Linked DNA regions of Homo sapiens. The protein of the gene in region 1 purifies or fractionates together with the protein of each later gene. This does not show direct contact. Each region holds a gene or a part of one and is shown in the gene's direction. Other genes may lie near its edges.

Region 1 (7,030 bases):
ATTGATGCAATGGAAATAATATTTTCCTTGAATTTTGGAGATTTAATTTTTGCTAAAGATTCTTATGTATAAGAATACATATTTCTATGTATATGAACTTCTACCTTTTTTTGGTAGAAAATTTGGCAGAAAAAGTGTATTCTATTTCATCAGTTGAACTATATGGAAATCTAGAAAAATAGAAGGTTAATAAAAAAGGAAGAATGGGGAATAGAGAAGATTTTTGTTAGGTTATTTGTGGAGGAATGTTAAAAGAGGAAGGATTTACAGTTCACGTTTTTCTCTCTTAAAAGGCCACTGCTGAAGCCAACAACTTAGCAGCTGCAGCCTCTGCCAAGGACATTTATTATAACAACATGGAAGAGGTACGTGGGACATACGCCTTATTCTGAAATATCTATAATCTGGGCATTGTTGCTGACTTCAAAAGCCCAACTTGATCCTACTTAATGTATCTTTAAGTGATGAGGCAATAAACTTATATTCAGGTTGTCCTGGTAACGGGGGCCTTCTAATTATTACCATTTCTTTGTTTGTTTGTTTGTTCTTGTTTTGTTTTGTTTTGTTTTGAATAGCAAATAGTTTATTGGTAAGTACATAGTTTCAATGGGAGTAATAAATTCACATGAGCAGGAGACAATAATCAAGTCAAAAGAATAAATGCTTACTAATCATCAGAAAATCTGTGGCCATTAAGGCTGGCACATAAAAATCCAAAATCACTCAGAGGCCGAATCTTAAAAGAAGATTCGTCCTCTTATTAGTTCATATGGAATAGGTCCATAGTAACTGGAATCTGTAGAATTCTGTAGATTTATCACCTTCTAACCAAACATGACCCACTGGGACATAACTGTAGCTTTTAAAGAAATCTGATGGACTAGTGGTGAGGATTTTGTCTCCTTCCAAACCAGTTACTCTTTTACAAATATTTGATGTTGGATCACTTGGGCTTTTTGCAATCACAATGTCACCTCTTTGGATACTATCAAAATGTCGACTAAGATTTTGTGCAAAGACAGTATCTGAATTTTGAATTGTAGGCTCCATTGATGGTCCAGAACACATGACAACACCACCAACGTATTCAGAAGCACAGTGAGCTATACAGCCATACTGAATAGCATAGCCAACAAGTCAGAAGGTTTCCCCAGAGCACCACGAAGCATAGTTCTATGTAGACTCTGCCACCATTGGTCATAGATCTGTTCTATAATTCATTTAATTTTTAGGGAAGTCGCAGGGCTTCCAGAAAAAAAAAATTAAAGCATGTCTCAAAGCGTATGTGGGTGATCCATGATTTCAGGAATCCTCGGGTCCCAAAGAACCCTGAGGACCCTCAACCAGGACACAGGTGGGCCTTTCTCACCTGGGCCCTGCAGAAGTCGACCGTTTGCTTTTGTTTTTTAGAGACGGAGTCTCACTCTGTCGCCCAGGCTGGAGTGCAGTGGTGCGATCTCGGCTCACTGCAACCTCCGCCTCCCGGGTTCAAGCGGTTCTCCTGCCTCAGCCTTCTGAGTAGCTGGGATTACAGGTGCCTGCCATCACGCCCGGCTAATTTTTTTTGTGTTAGTAGAGACGGAGTTTCACCATGTTTACCAGGCTGATTTCAAACTCCTGACCTCAAGTGATCTGCCCGCCCTGGCCTCCGAAAGTGCTGGGATTACAGGCGTGAGCCACCGCACCCGTCCCAGTGTCACTGCTCTTTCCAATTGATATTATCACCCTGGTTTTTTAAGTGTGCTTTTCAGAGGAAGTGAAACTAGACTTTATTGGTCTTAGTCATCTTTTAAAAGTTAACTTATTAATACATTGTTAACATCTTAAAACATTCTAATCCTTTCATTATCTTTTCATGTTTTATTTGGCACTTGTTTTTGAAGAGATCTTTTAACATATTGTTTCTTTGTTCTTTTTAGGTTTGTGGGGGAGAGAAACCTTATTTGTCTCCAGACATTCTAGAGGAGAAGCACTGTGAATTCAAACAACTTGCTCTGGACCATTTTAAGAAGACCAAGAAGATGGGTGGGAAGGATTTCAGCTTTCGTTACCAGCAGGAGCTGGAGGAGGAAATCAAGGAATTATATGAGAACTTCTGCAAGCACAATGGTAGCAAGAACGTCTTCAGCACCTTCCGAACCCCTGCAGTGCTGTTCACGGGCATTGTAGCTTTGTACATAGCCTCAGGCCTCACTGGCTTCATAGGTCTTGAGGTTGTAGCCCAGTTGTTCAACTGTATGGTTGGACTACTGTTAATAGCACTCCTCACCTGGGGCTACATCAGGTATTCTGGTCAATATCGTGAGCTGGGCGGAGCTATTGATTTTGGTGCCGCATATGTGTTGGAGCAGGTAAGTGGTGCTGCTGAAGAGCCTGAGGGTTGATAATGGGCAGATATTTGTGCTTCTGTTGTAAAATATCTCAGTTTGGAAGAATTTCATAGTGAAGACATGAGACAGTGGCCACTCCGTTGGCTGTTGTTTTCTGATAGACTGTATGTTTTATTATCCTTTAGGATATTAATATTTATTCTTAATATTTTGTTTCCATGTCTAAAAAGGCCCCCGCCCCGCTTTTTTTTTTTTTTTTTGAGACAAAGTCTCGCTGTGCTCTCTTGCCCAGGCTGGAGTCCAGTGGCATGATCTTGGCTCACTGCAACCTCCGCCTCCCAGGTTCAAGTGATTCTCTTGCGTCAGCCTCCCAAGTAGCTGAGACTACAGGTGTGTGCCACCACGGCCCGCTAGTTTTTGTATTTTTAATAGAGACAGGGTTTCACCATGTTGACCAGGCTGGTCTCGAACTCCTGACCTCATGGTCCGCCTGCCTCGGCCTCCCAAAGTGCTGGGATTACAGGTGTGAGCCACCGTGCCCAGCCCAAAAATAGCCCTTTAATGCAAAAACATTCCAACTTAGACATACTGATTGTGTTCCCCTTTGGCAACTTTTTTTTTTTTTTTTTTTTTTGAGACAGATTTTTACGCTTTTGCCCAGGCTGGAGTGAAGTGGTGTGATCTTGGCTCACTGCAACCTCTGCCCACTGGGTTCAAGTGATTCTCTTGCCTCAGCCTCCCAAGAGTAGCTGGGATTATAGGTGCCTGACACCATGCCCAGTTAATTTCTGTATTTTTTTTTTTTTTTTTAGTAGAGACAGTGTTTTGCCATGTTAGCTAGGCTGGTCTTGAACTCCTGACCTCAGGTGATCCACCCACCTCGGCCTCCCAAAGTGCTAGGATTATAGGCATGAGCTATTGCGCCTGGTCGGCAACTTCTAATTACATGCTCTTCAGACATAATTTTTATGTGATTCTCACTTCTCACCCCCTCTAGATTAATTTACTTCATTGAAAAGCAAGAACTTTGAAAAAATTATGAACTTAACGAAAAATGTTCGGTTTTGAGTCCTACTGGATTAGGAAAGGGATGGTATCTTTTTTATTTAAAAATCTTCCAAAAGCCAGTGGCTTGGTTATTTATTTATTGGGTTGCTTATTTATTTATTTATAAAATTTTTTTTGGAGACGAGGTCTTGCTTTGTCACCCAGGCTGGTATCTTAGCTCATTGTAACTTAAAACTCCTGGGCTCAAGTGATCCTCCCACCTCAGCCTCCCAAGCAGCCGGTGTTACAGGCGAGTGCCACCACACCTGACTAACCCAGTAGCTCTTGGACATTGACATGGTCACAAGTTTTGTAGATCTTTGAGATGATACATTTGTTTTTCTGAGTAACATGAACAGGTGAGTTGGGTTAGCAGCTTGTGAAGCCACAGGAGCTGCCTATCCTACCCTAGCCACAGAGCAGATGTTCCCCTGGCTCTCTTGGGAGTTAGCTGCTGCCACAGCCTCTCTGTATCCCTGCATTTTCATTCAACTGCTTTCTGTAACATGCCGATGATGGAGACAGGTTTTTGAAAGTTTAAGGACTTACTTTCTTGTTGCTGTGTTGTATTTTATTAACTTATATGTTGAATAAATGGACTTTTGCAGGCTTCTTCTCATATCGGTAATTCCACTCAGGCCACTGTGAGGGATGCAGTTGTTGGAAGACCATCCATGGATAAAAAAGCTCAATAGCATCTTAACGTGAAGATCAAACAAGAACACAACAAGCCCCTACTGATTTCTGGGTTTCTGCCACGGCCACAGGTTCATATCCAGAGGAATGGCAGATCTGAGACGATCCAGGAAGAGCTAAAACATGGCCCTGTAATAAATGAGCAGACCTCTCCTGTGGTTTCAAATTATTAAACACACTTCCATTTCTCTTGGAAGCATTTCTTTTCCTTGCTGTTATAGATGCAAGCCTGTGTCTATTTTCATATTACTCTGCTTTGTGCACTTTATGGAGGAGGAAGCTAGAGGAAAAATGGAAATGCAGCTTTTAAGTTCTTTATGTGCCACTTAGTGCCTTTTAAGATTGATTCCATGGTTTTGCACACACGATGGGGAGGGGATGGAGGATAACCTCATGAAAGGTGCCGTTTTCGGGTGAAACTTGACATTTCTTTTATACTTTACTCTTTTGAGAAGGATTCTTTTTTTTTTTTTTTTTTTTTTTGAGTTGGAGTCTCGCTCTGTCACCAGGCTTGAGTGCAGTGGTGTGATCTTGGCTCACTGCAACCTCTGCCTGCCGGGTTCAAGCAGTTCTCCTGCCTCAGCCTCCCAAGTAGCTGGGACTACAGGTGTACGCCACCATACCCAGCTAATTTTTTTGTATTTTTAGTAGAGATGGGGTTTCACCATGTTGGCCAGGATGGTCTTGGTCTCTTGACCTTGTGATCCGCCTGCCCGCCTTGGCCTCCCAAAGTGCTGGGATTACAGGCGTGAGCCACCGTGCCCGGCCAAGAAGGATTCCTTTTTTAAAAGTTTACAGAACTTGGAGAAACTTCAGAACTAAAGACTAACTGAAAATGATGTCATTACACTCAAAAAAAATTTACAATAGGGAATCCTGTTGCCACATAGTGTGGAAAAATCATGTCATATTTAAATATACCATACTCTGAAATGTGAGGTTTTTACCCAGTAGGCTGACAGTTTTGTTGCAACTTGCTCTATTTTTTTTTTTTTTTTGGTCCCTATAGCTTCTTTCTAGAAAAAGAGGCAAACGTGCCTTGAAAAGCCAGAGTGGCTCATAATAAAAGGAATGCGCTAGATACTTCAAGAAAAAAGCTAAGTTTAAATGAACCATGTGACCTCTGATAAGTCACTTGAACTTGTGCCTTGGTCAGGTTCACTGTAGGTTTACATATGTATGTATGTTTTACACAACTCTTGTAATTGTCATTTGAGGGGTTTTGTTTTTGAGAGTTCTGCATAAGAACAGAACTTTATTAAGGATTAGAGGGAAGATACAAATATTACTGCGTTTAATTGATGTCTAATTTCATGTGGCTTAGCAGCAATTAATAACCTGATTTAAGGTCTTTATTCAGAATGTTAATTTGCATTCTCTGCCGTGTCTAATGTTCTTAATAATGAAGCTAAAATTAACCCATTTTATTTAGTGAATTATCTATTTAATTTTACTTTGGCTAGTCTGGTAGCTTTAAGATAGCTTTGCCTTAGCAAGGATCAAAGTCCTACCCAAATATAAAAAATATCTAGAAGTATCTAAGAGTTCTTTTTTTCTATTTACCTTGATTAGGAGATAAAAGTTTTATCTGTTAGTTGCTTTTCCTTTTGGAATTATTGTGGATTTTAAAACTTAAAACTTGCCTGCAAGTATTTATATAAACATTCAGGTATATAAGCCTTAATTTCTAAGATAATTTAACTTTTGTTATGGGAGGGAGGTAAGAGTGTAAATTTTATATACATGAAGGTAAGATCTGAGTGTAAACTTTACATACATGAAGTATGAATGGAAGGTAGAAAAAAAGTCCCTTTTCGCATGTAATCTCTTTATCAAAGAATTTTCTTTTGACACTTTACCACTGAAGTATTTTTGTAAGTCCTAAATTCGCAGCATATTGTTTCATATTTATATGCCATCTTGCAAATAGTTCTTGCTATTTTATTCACTGCTGTTACACTTTAGAAAAATTCCAGCTTGTTTACTTGCATTTATCAGTGATGCCAACCAAGCTTTGACTGTTAACTTGAAAGCTTGCTTCTGAAATGTTGGTGCATTTTCAGGTGACCTCTTATCTCTCTGAAAGTTCATACCTATTAGCAGGCTCTGTAAATATTGACATACTTAGCTTTTAATACATTCTATAAGTAAATTTATAGATTTCAGAATAACTTAAAAAATTTAATGGTAAGAAGGGGTGATGTGTCGAAAACTCATACTAAAGTATTAGGTCACTTTAAAAAAAGTGATAATGTATGATTTAATGAAATCTTAAGATTCAGTTACTATTTAAATTCACCATTTCTGTTTTGGTCTTATAAAGAGACCTTGGTTTAATTATCCAGAGGAAGTCCTCTTCACCATTTTTTTTTTTTCTTAGTTCTGCTTCTGGAAAGTGTTTTATAAAGTTTTCTCAGTGAGGGTTCTTAAGAGTTTTCTTTGGCCTCTTTTCTCTCAACAGTAAATTGATGATTTTATATCAGCTTTTTCAATAAAAGATGCATTATCATTACTGGCTATAAATCATCCTGGGGAGATTTATAACCAGGTTAAAAATAATATCTTTTACTTCTCTCACCTTTTACTTGTGGTTCAGATGCTCAGACTGTGCCTGTTTGCGTCGTGTCTGTTGCTCTGCCGCTTTCCATGCAGGCATTTTTAATTTTACACAATCCTAACAATATATGGAACTCATTCCTATGAATATATAAAAGGAGGCTTCCAAAATTTTCTATTAAAATATTTCAGGATAAATTAAGTGTTGATAATTTGAAAAAATAATTTCAATGAGCTGCTTATAGTAAAAATGGTAGAATCAGAGTTTTCATTCTTTGAGAAATCTTTCTGTAAGATTGGCTCATAGATAAAATGAGACAAACTACTATGTATGATAAAACACCTTCAGAGTCATGCCTTGTTTTATTTTATTTTATTTTTTGAGACAGAGGTCTCGCTCT
Region 2 (7,030 bases), on another chromosome or scaffold:
CACTAATTGCCATATTAAAGGTCTTAGAAGATGAGGAGTAACTCAATCTTTTCCTTTTTCTTTATGAAAAAGACATACTTGAGGGAAACTGAGGTAAGAGAAAAATATGAAATATATTTTTAAACAGGAATTTTTTTTTTTTTTTTTTGAGATAGTCTCCCCCTTGTCACCAGGCTGGAGTGCAATGACGCAATCTTGGCTCACTGCAACCTCCGCCTCCCAGGTTCAAGTGATTCTCCTGCCTCAGCCTCCCGAGTAGCTGGGATTACAGGCGCCTGCCACCACGCCTGGCTAATTTTTGTATTTTTAGTAGAGACGGGATTTTACCATGTTGGCCAGGCTGGTGGTCTTGAACTCCTGACCTCCAGTGATCCACCCACCTTGGCCTCCCAAAGTGTTGGGATTACAGGCATGAGCCACTGCGCCTGGCCACAGGAAGTTTAATGATTGACAAAAGCATACTAATCTTGTATTGGTATGGGAACAAAGAAAATAGTTCTGTCTTTGAACATTAGGGATTCAGGGGGTGACAGCACTCTCTTGGAATCTTGTGTGTTGGAATGCTGAGGTTGGAAGGCAATGGGGAAAGAATATTGCCTGTTCTACAGAGTTCCCTAATTCCATATTGATGATACCTATTGGGAAACTTTAGTTTTTTTAGTAAGTGTAAGAACATTGTGATTATGGTTGTGGATAGTTAACCATTTTCAATGTGTCTGGATTTCTTAATGCATTCAAGAGTTTGTTCATTAATTCAACCCATTATTGATTACCTACCAAGAGACAGGATCTATTCTAAGCTTTGAGGGTATAGCAATAAGCAAGACACATGCTCCCCCTTGGGAGAGTACAGATAATAAGCACATAAATAAAGAACCCAGAATAGTGGTGTTATGAGGAAAATAAACAGGATAATGGCATAGAGAATGATGGGGATTTATGGGGGCTTTTTTAGGTTAGGTGACACTAAGACAGGCTTAGAAGGTGAGATTTGAGCTGCAGAGAGAAAACATTTCCAAGCAACTTCAGGGCAAAACCCTGAGGCAGGAATGAGCTCTTTGTGTCTGAGAATCTAGTGTAAGACTAGTGAGAAAAACTAGTGGGAGAGTGAAGAGGTGGCCTTACCCACCCAGATCATTGGGGGTCTCTAACAGGCAATGGTAAAAATGTTTAGCTTTTTAAAAAAATAAAAATATGCTTATTAAATAATTATATTGTGATTTTGGAACTAAAATAAGTTTGGAAGATTCAGGGCTACTGAGAGGACTGATGTGAGACAAAGGTGAGAAATGTGCAGAGCAGGGTTAGAAGCATAGACTAGCCTGCCTGGAAGAGAGGGTTTCTAGATCACTGACACTTGTCTGTTTAACATTGCTGTTTACGTTATTTATGAGTAAGCCCTGATTTTCATCTGTTAATAAGTTGTAATTTTACTGTTTGCTGTTGTGCCCAGAGCATCTCCATCGCAATGCAGTAACTGAAGTGAGACTAAAACCTCTCACTTGAGGGCCATTTTTCATGGGAAAATACTTGGCTTAGTGGTTGGTTAAGTTAGGCTTTGAGGATATGCGCAGAAAACTCTGGCTAGAAATCGATTTGAGAGCAGTGCAAACATAATTAAGGGTGACTTCGAACTGGTCTCTGGACATGTTCTAAACCAAGGTTAATTAAGACCGAAAATATGTAGATCTGGATTCTGAAAGATACTGAATGCCAAATTAAGGAATTTGGATTTTATCATTCCACTTTAATCCATGCTCTGCTATCCAGTTGCCCTTGCTTTTGGTAATTTATATTATGAAACCAAAATTGTTTTTTTTAATTGTTGTTTCTAAAGTTATTGTTTTTCACCCCTTCTCGAATTAGAGCTTTTGGCTTTGGGAAGACAGCCATTGAAGGTTATTTGAACTGAGGCAAGGCACCGTGAAAGCAGTATTAGAAAATTGGTGACAATATTCAAGATAGGTGGGAAGGAAAAGCAGATGAATTATTTAGAAAGCTATTACAGTAGTTCTGAGAAAGATGAGTAGGGCCTGAACTATTTCATTATTTGTTCATTCAGTGAAAATGGAATAGAAGGGAGGAATATAAGAGTATAAGAAGCACGCTTTCTTTAATTGGCTGTGAATCTGTTTTTATAGTTAGTTTACGAAGAGGCTGTATGAAAGACGAATTGATAGGACTTGGAAACCATGAATGTAAAGACAAAGAAAAGAATATTAGTGCTTATTAAATCAGTTTCAGAGACTGCCAAAATTTAATTGCCATGAAAATTTGTATAAAATTGAATATTGCTCATAAATACAGATTATGGGTTGGGGCTTAAAAATTACTAGTTTTTACTATCATGAAGCCATTTATTATATGATCATTTTTATTGGCGTAGTAGCATGTATTAGAAATTTTAAGATTTTGAGTGACATATGGTTTAAATATTAGGTATCAGTTCTTAATATAAAGTCCAAGTTCCCAGGAAGTGGATGCTTCTAAACACAAGAAAGTCATGCCCTGTCCATTCCCCACTTTCATTTTTGTGATTCTGAATAATTTCTGGTTAAGCCATTTCTTATTTTTAAAAGTTGGGAATAAGTAGTATACTCCTCATGGATATGGTGAATTATGTTTCAGATTGGTTCCTGGGCAACTGAGTGTCAAATTTGTGGTCTTTTTTTTTTTTTTTTTTTTTTTTTAGTGATTTGCAAACTCTCTCAAATCCTTTTTAAAATGAAGTGATGGGTATATGTGGAACCACTGATAAATAACTGCATGGAATAGTGTTTAGAAAACATGCTATTTTAGTGCTATATTATTGTAAACTTAAAGGATTTGCCATGTTATAAAAACATTTCTGAAAAGGAGCATGTTACCTATTGTCCATTAATTGGCTTTGTTTTATGTGTAGTTATTTTCTTTTTAAAAATCTAAAAACCAAAAAACAATGGTCTCACTTTTGTCCAGGCTGGTCTCAAACTTGGGGCCTGAAGCAATCCTCCTGCCTGGACCTCCCAAAGTGCTGGGATTACAGGCATGAGCCACCATGCCTGGCAAGTTTTTTTGTTTGTTTGTTTGTTTGTTTGTTTCTTTTGAGACAGAGTCTTACTCTGTCGCTCAGGCTGGAGTGCAGTGGCATGATTATGGCTCACTATACCCTTGACCTCCTGGGCTTAAGCAGTCCTCCCACTTCAGCCCCCCAGGTAGCTGAGACTACAGGTGCACACCACCATGCTGGCTATTTTTAAAATTTTTTAAAAAAACTTTTATATTTATGTATTTATATTTTGGAGACAGGGTCTTGCTCTTTCACCCAGGCTAAAGTATAGTGGTGCAGTCTTGGCTCACTGCAGCCTCATCTTCTGGGCTCAAGTGATCCTGCCACCTCAGCCTCCCAACTAGCTGGGACCACAGGCACGTACCACCACGCCCGGCTAATTTTTGTGTTTTTCGTGCAGATAGGGTTTCGCCATGTTGCCCAGGCTGGGCTCAAATTCCTGAGGTCAAGCAGTCTTCTCGAAGTGCTGGGTTTACAGGCGTGAGCCACCACACCCAGCCTAAATATATTTTTATTTTTATTTTTATTTTATTTTATTTTTGAGGTGGAGTCTTGCTCTGTAGCCCAGGCTGGAGTGCAGTGGCGCAATCTTGGCTCACTGCAACCTCCACCTCCTAGGTTCCAGCAATTCTCCTGCCTCAGCCTCCCGAGTAGCTGGGACCACAGGCATGTGCCACCACACCTGGCTAATTTTTGTATTCTTAGTAGAGACGGGGTTTCACCATGTTGGCCAGGCTGGTCTTGAACTCCTGACCTCAGGTGACCCACCTGCCTCGGTGTCCCACAATTCTGGGATTACAGGTGTGAGCCACTGCTCCCAGCCTTATTTTTATTTTTTTAAAGATGGGGTCTTACTATGTTGGCCAGGTTGGTCTTGAACTCCTGGGCTCAAGCAGTTCTCCCACCTCGACTTCTGAAAGTGTTGAAATTACAGGTGTGAGCCACTGTGCCCCGCCATTTATTTTCATAATATACCTTCAAGCAACTTATTAGAATAACTTGATTCAAAGCCTCAATTTAATGGTTCCTTTTTAAGGTACTTTGCTAGCCCAGGATAAAAGTATAAACTGAATGGCTATTTCTTGATTCTTCCCTGGAACCCTTAAATAAATAGAAGTAAATGTTGCAGATATACTATACTTATGGTACATTCTTTGAGACTTTTTGTTCCTGTTTCTAAAGGGATCAGGTTCTTCTGAGGATGACAGCACTAGGGATGGGAACTGTAATGGTAAAACCATAGTTCTCAGTAGTGTTTGAATGAATGTGACCTTTGTGGATAGCTAGTGCAGGACATAGGTATGCAAAATGATGAGACCCAGCTTTACTGATGCTAAGATTTTCTCAGACTAATGCCATCATCATCCTTTTTAACCCCAAAGGAGGAGTTGATAATTTCATATTTAAGCTATTGATATTTATGTTTCTTGGAATGATGATCATTGATTTTTAAGTTGCTTTCATCACGTGTTTCCATAATATTCTGTTCTTACCTCTTCATAGTATATATCATTCTATATAAGGTAATGGTATGGTTACTGATTTCTTTCCTCCACCAGACAGTGTACTCCTTGAGGAAAGGTGCTGTGACCTTTTTCTTTGAGGAAAAGGACTGTATGCATTGTGTCTGCATTGCAGTGCCTTAGATGTGATAGGCACTCAGTTTGTTGAATGAGAAAGATGCTGATCTTCATATTCTGTATAGTTCTAGAATTACTATAATATCTTCTCTCAATAAAAATCCCAAATCTTACGAAAGCATTTATTTATTTATGTATACAAGGTAACAATTCCAAACAGTACTACAAGAATACACAGAAAAGTAACTCTTTCTACCTGTTACCCAGATTTCCACAAATTGTCTTCTGTAGATCCACCCTCTGTTAGTAGTTTCTTGAGTATCTGTTTAGAGATAATCTGTGGATAAATATTTATTTATACATGTATATCCTTTTCACTTTATTTTCCACAAAAATAGATGCAGAGGACTCTGGGGATGTACCATATTTTATTTAATCAGTCCCTTATTGATGGTTATTTAGGTTGATACTTAGTTTTTTCTCTTACAAATACTATTTCTGTGAACACTCTTGTATACACTTCTTTGGGAATACATGCCATTATATATGTTGTAGGATAAATCTGTGCAAGTAGAATTACTGCTTCAAAGGATATTTGCATTTAAAATGTTGGTAGCTAATGCCAAAGTGTCATTCAAAGAATGGTTCCAACCTTTATTCCCACCAACCTGTTAAGGTACCTTTTCCCTTATATCTTTACCAACACAGTATATTAGTGAACTAATACATTGTTTAGCAAATTGTTCTTTTAAATTTGAGTCATTTTTCATAGGCTTAGGTGTCAAATTTTTTCTGATCACAGCTTTTGCCTATTCTTTTGGGTTTTTGGTCTCATGTATGTAGATTCACTTAATCTGCATTGTAAGGAAACTAGCCTTTTGTCATATGTCTTGAAAACTTTTTATTGATTTGTTATTTGTATTTTGACCATATGGTATGTTTTTCTGTTTAGAAATTTTTATGTAGTCAGATTTATCATTTTCTTTTATGACTTTGAGTCATAAAAGTGAAAAAAGTCATTGAGTTTTATGTAATCCTTAGAAAATCCTTCTTGAGGATCATAAAAATTTTCCCCCATGTTTACTCCTAGTAAGTACTTTTATACTTTTTATGATTTCATTTTAACATTTAATTATTTGATTTATTTGCAGTTTGTTTTGTTCTAGAGAGTGAAGTAGTGAAATAATTTTATATTTCAAGATTATTTCCCATTTGTTCCAATACCTTTTATTTTGAATTATCCTTCTTAACCACTTTGAAGTACCATTTTTGTCATATTCTTGTAGTATGGGTGAAATATTTCCTCTGCTTTTCCATTTATCTGTCAGTTCACACAGAAGTATCAGACTGTTGTGCTATAATTTTTAAATACTAGCTAAACGGCTTTTCCATAAATATTTTTCTTGGCTATCTTATGTGTGTATAATTTTCTACTTCATCTTAAAATTTTTTTTATCTTGTCCCCTCTCCCTCTGTTGGAGTTTTAGTAGGTTGCATTACATTTATGGATTAATTTTGGGGAGAATTGAAATACATTCGGTGTTGATATTGTGTATTTTTCCATAAACACGTGGTTTTTATTAACATGTATTTAAAAAAAATTTAGCATATAATTAGGTGAACTAGAGACTTTTAAAAATAAATATTCTAGCCTCCTTGTAACATACTGAATTATACAGGTATTTGGCTCTCTCTTTTCAATTGATAATTGACTGAGAAAGAAAGCTAAGTCTTCCTGCTTTTTCATTTCCAAAAAAAAAAAAAAATTGTGTTGAGAAAGAAAGAAATATTCTCTGTACTCTTGTATTAGGAGCTATAGCTGCCAAATACTGGATTTTTTTTTTTTAAAGCAGTCTCTTTACATAGGTGGCCCTCTACTTTTCAAAAATAATTATTTCTTTAATAGCTTGTTTTTCTCATTGATGGAATTGTTACCACAGATACAGAAAGTTTATAAAGTTTTGTTGTTCAAGAGTTTGGAGTTGCTGCTTATATTGGTGGTCTCTTGGAAGTTCAATATTAAGAAAAAAATTAATATATTCCTTTTTTTTTTTAACTAGGCCTAGGGCTGAGTAAGAGGACAAGAAAGATGAATAGAGGTTGTACTTATGAGAGGTATAGGTAGCAGATGAAGGAAAAAATACAGGCCCTTAGTTGTAAAGAATTTTCTGCTCTTAAAACCAGAGGAGTTTTGTGATTGGCCTTACAGGACATATTTACAGATCTGTGAACTGCTTTTGTGGAAAGAGAGAAGCTTACTTAAGGATTCCAGGTCTGCCTACGTGTTCTTTCTCCCCAACTTTGTAGGTTGATTTATAAACTCGCCTAAATGGAAGGTGCCATTATTGAGTTCATTTATCTCAGTGCCCTGACAACCGTAGATGGAGGTGACCTAAAAGTG

What was found. Proteins that work in one complex are often made in the same cells at the same time.
Region 2: the proteins of ATL3 (region 1) and RTN4 purify together in Homo sapiens (affinity purification with mass spectrometry; 6 studies listed by BioGRID and IntAct, with this or other methods). This does not show direct contact.

What each region holds. Positions count from the first base shown.
Region 1 is NC_000011.10:63,626,361-63,633,390, reverse strand, and holds part of ATL3 (atlastin-3), read left to right. Parts: intron 1-293; coding exon 294-365; intron 366-568; exon of another isoform or gene 569-1,197; intron 1,198-1,919; coding exon 1,920-2,351; intron 2,352-3,985; coding exon 3,986-4,072; 3' UTR 4,073-7,030. UniProt on the Homo sapiens protein: Atlastin-3 (ATL3) is a membrane-anchored GTPase that mediates the GTP-dependent fusion of endoplasmic reticulum (ER) membranes, maintaining the continuous ER network. It facilitates the formation of three-way junctions where ER tubules intersect.
Region 2 is NC_000002.12:55,040,446-55,047,475, reverse strand, and holds part of RTN4 (reticulon-4), read left to right. Parts: intron 1-149; exon of another isoform or gene 150-660; intron 661-7,030. UniProt on the Homo sapiens protein: Required to induce the formation and stabilization of endoplasmic reticulum (ER) tubules. They regulate membrane morphogenesis in the ER by promoting tubular ER production.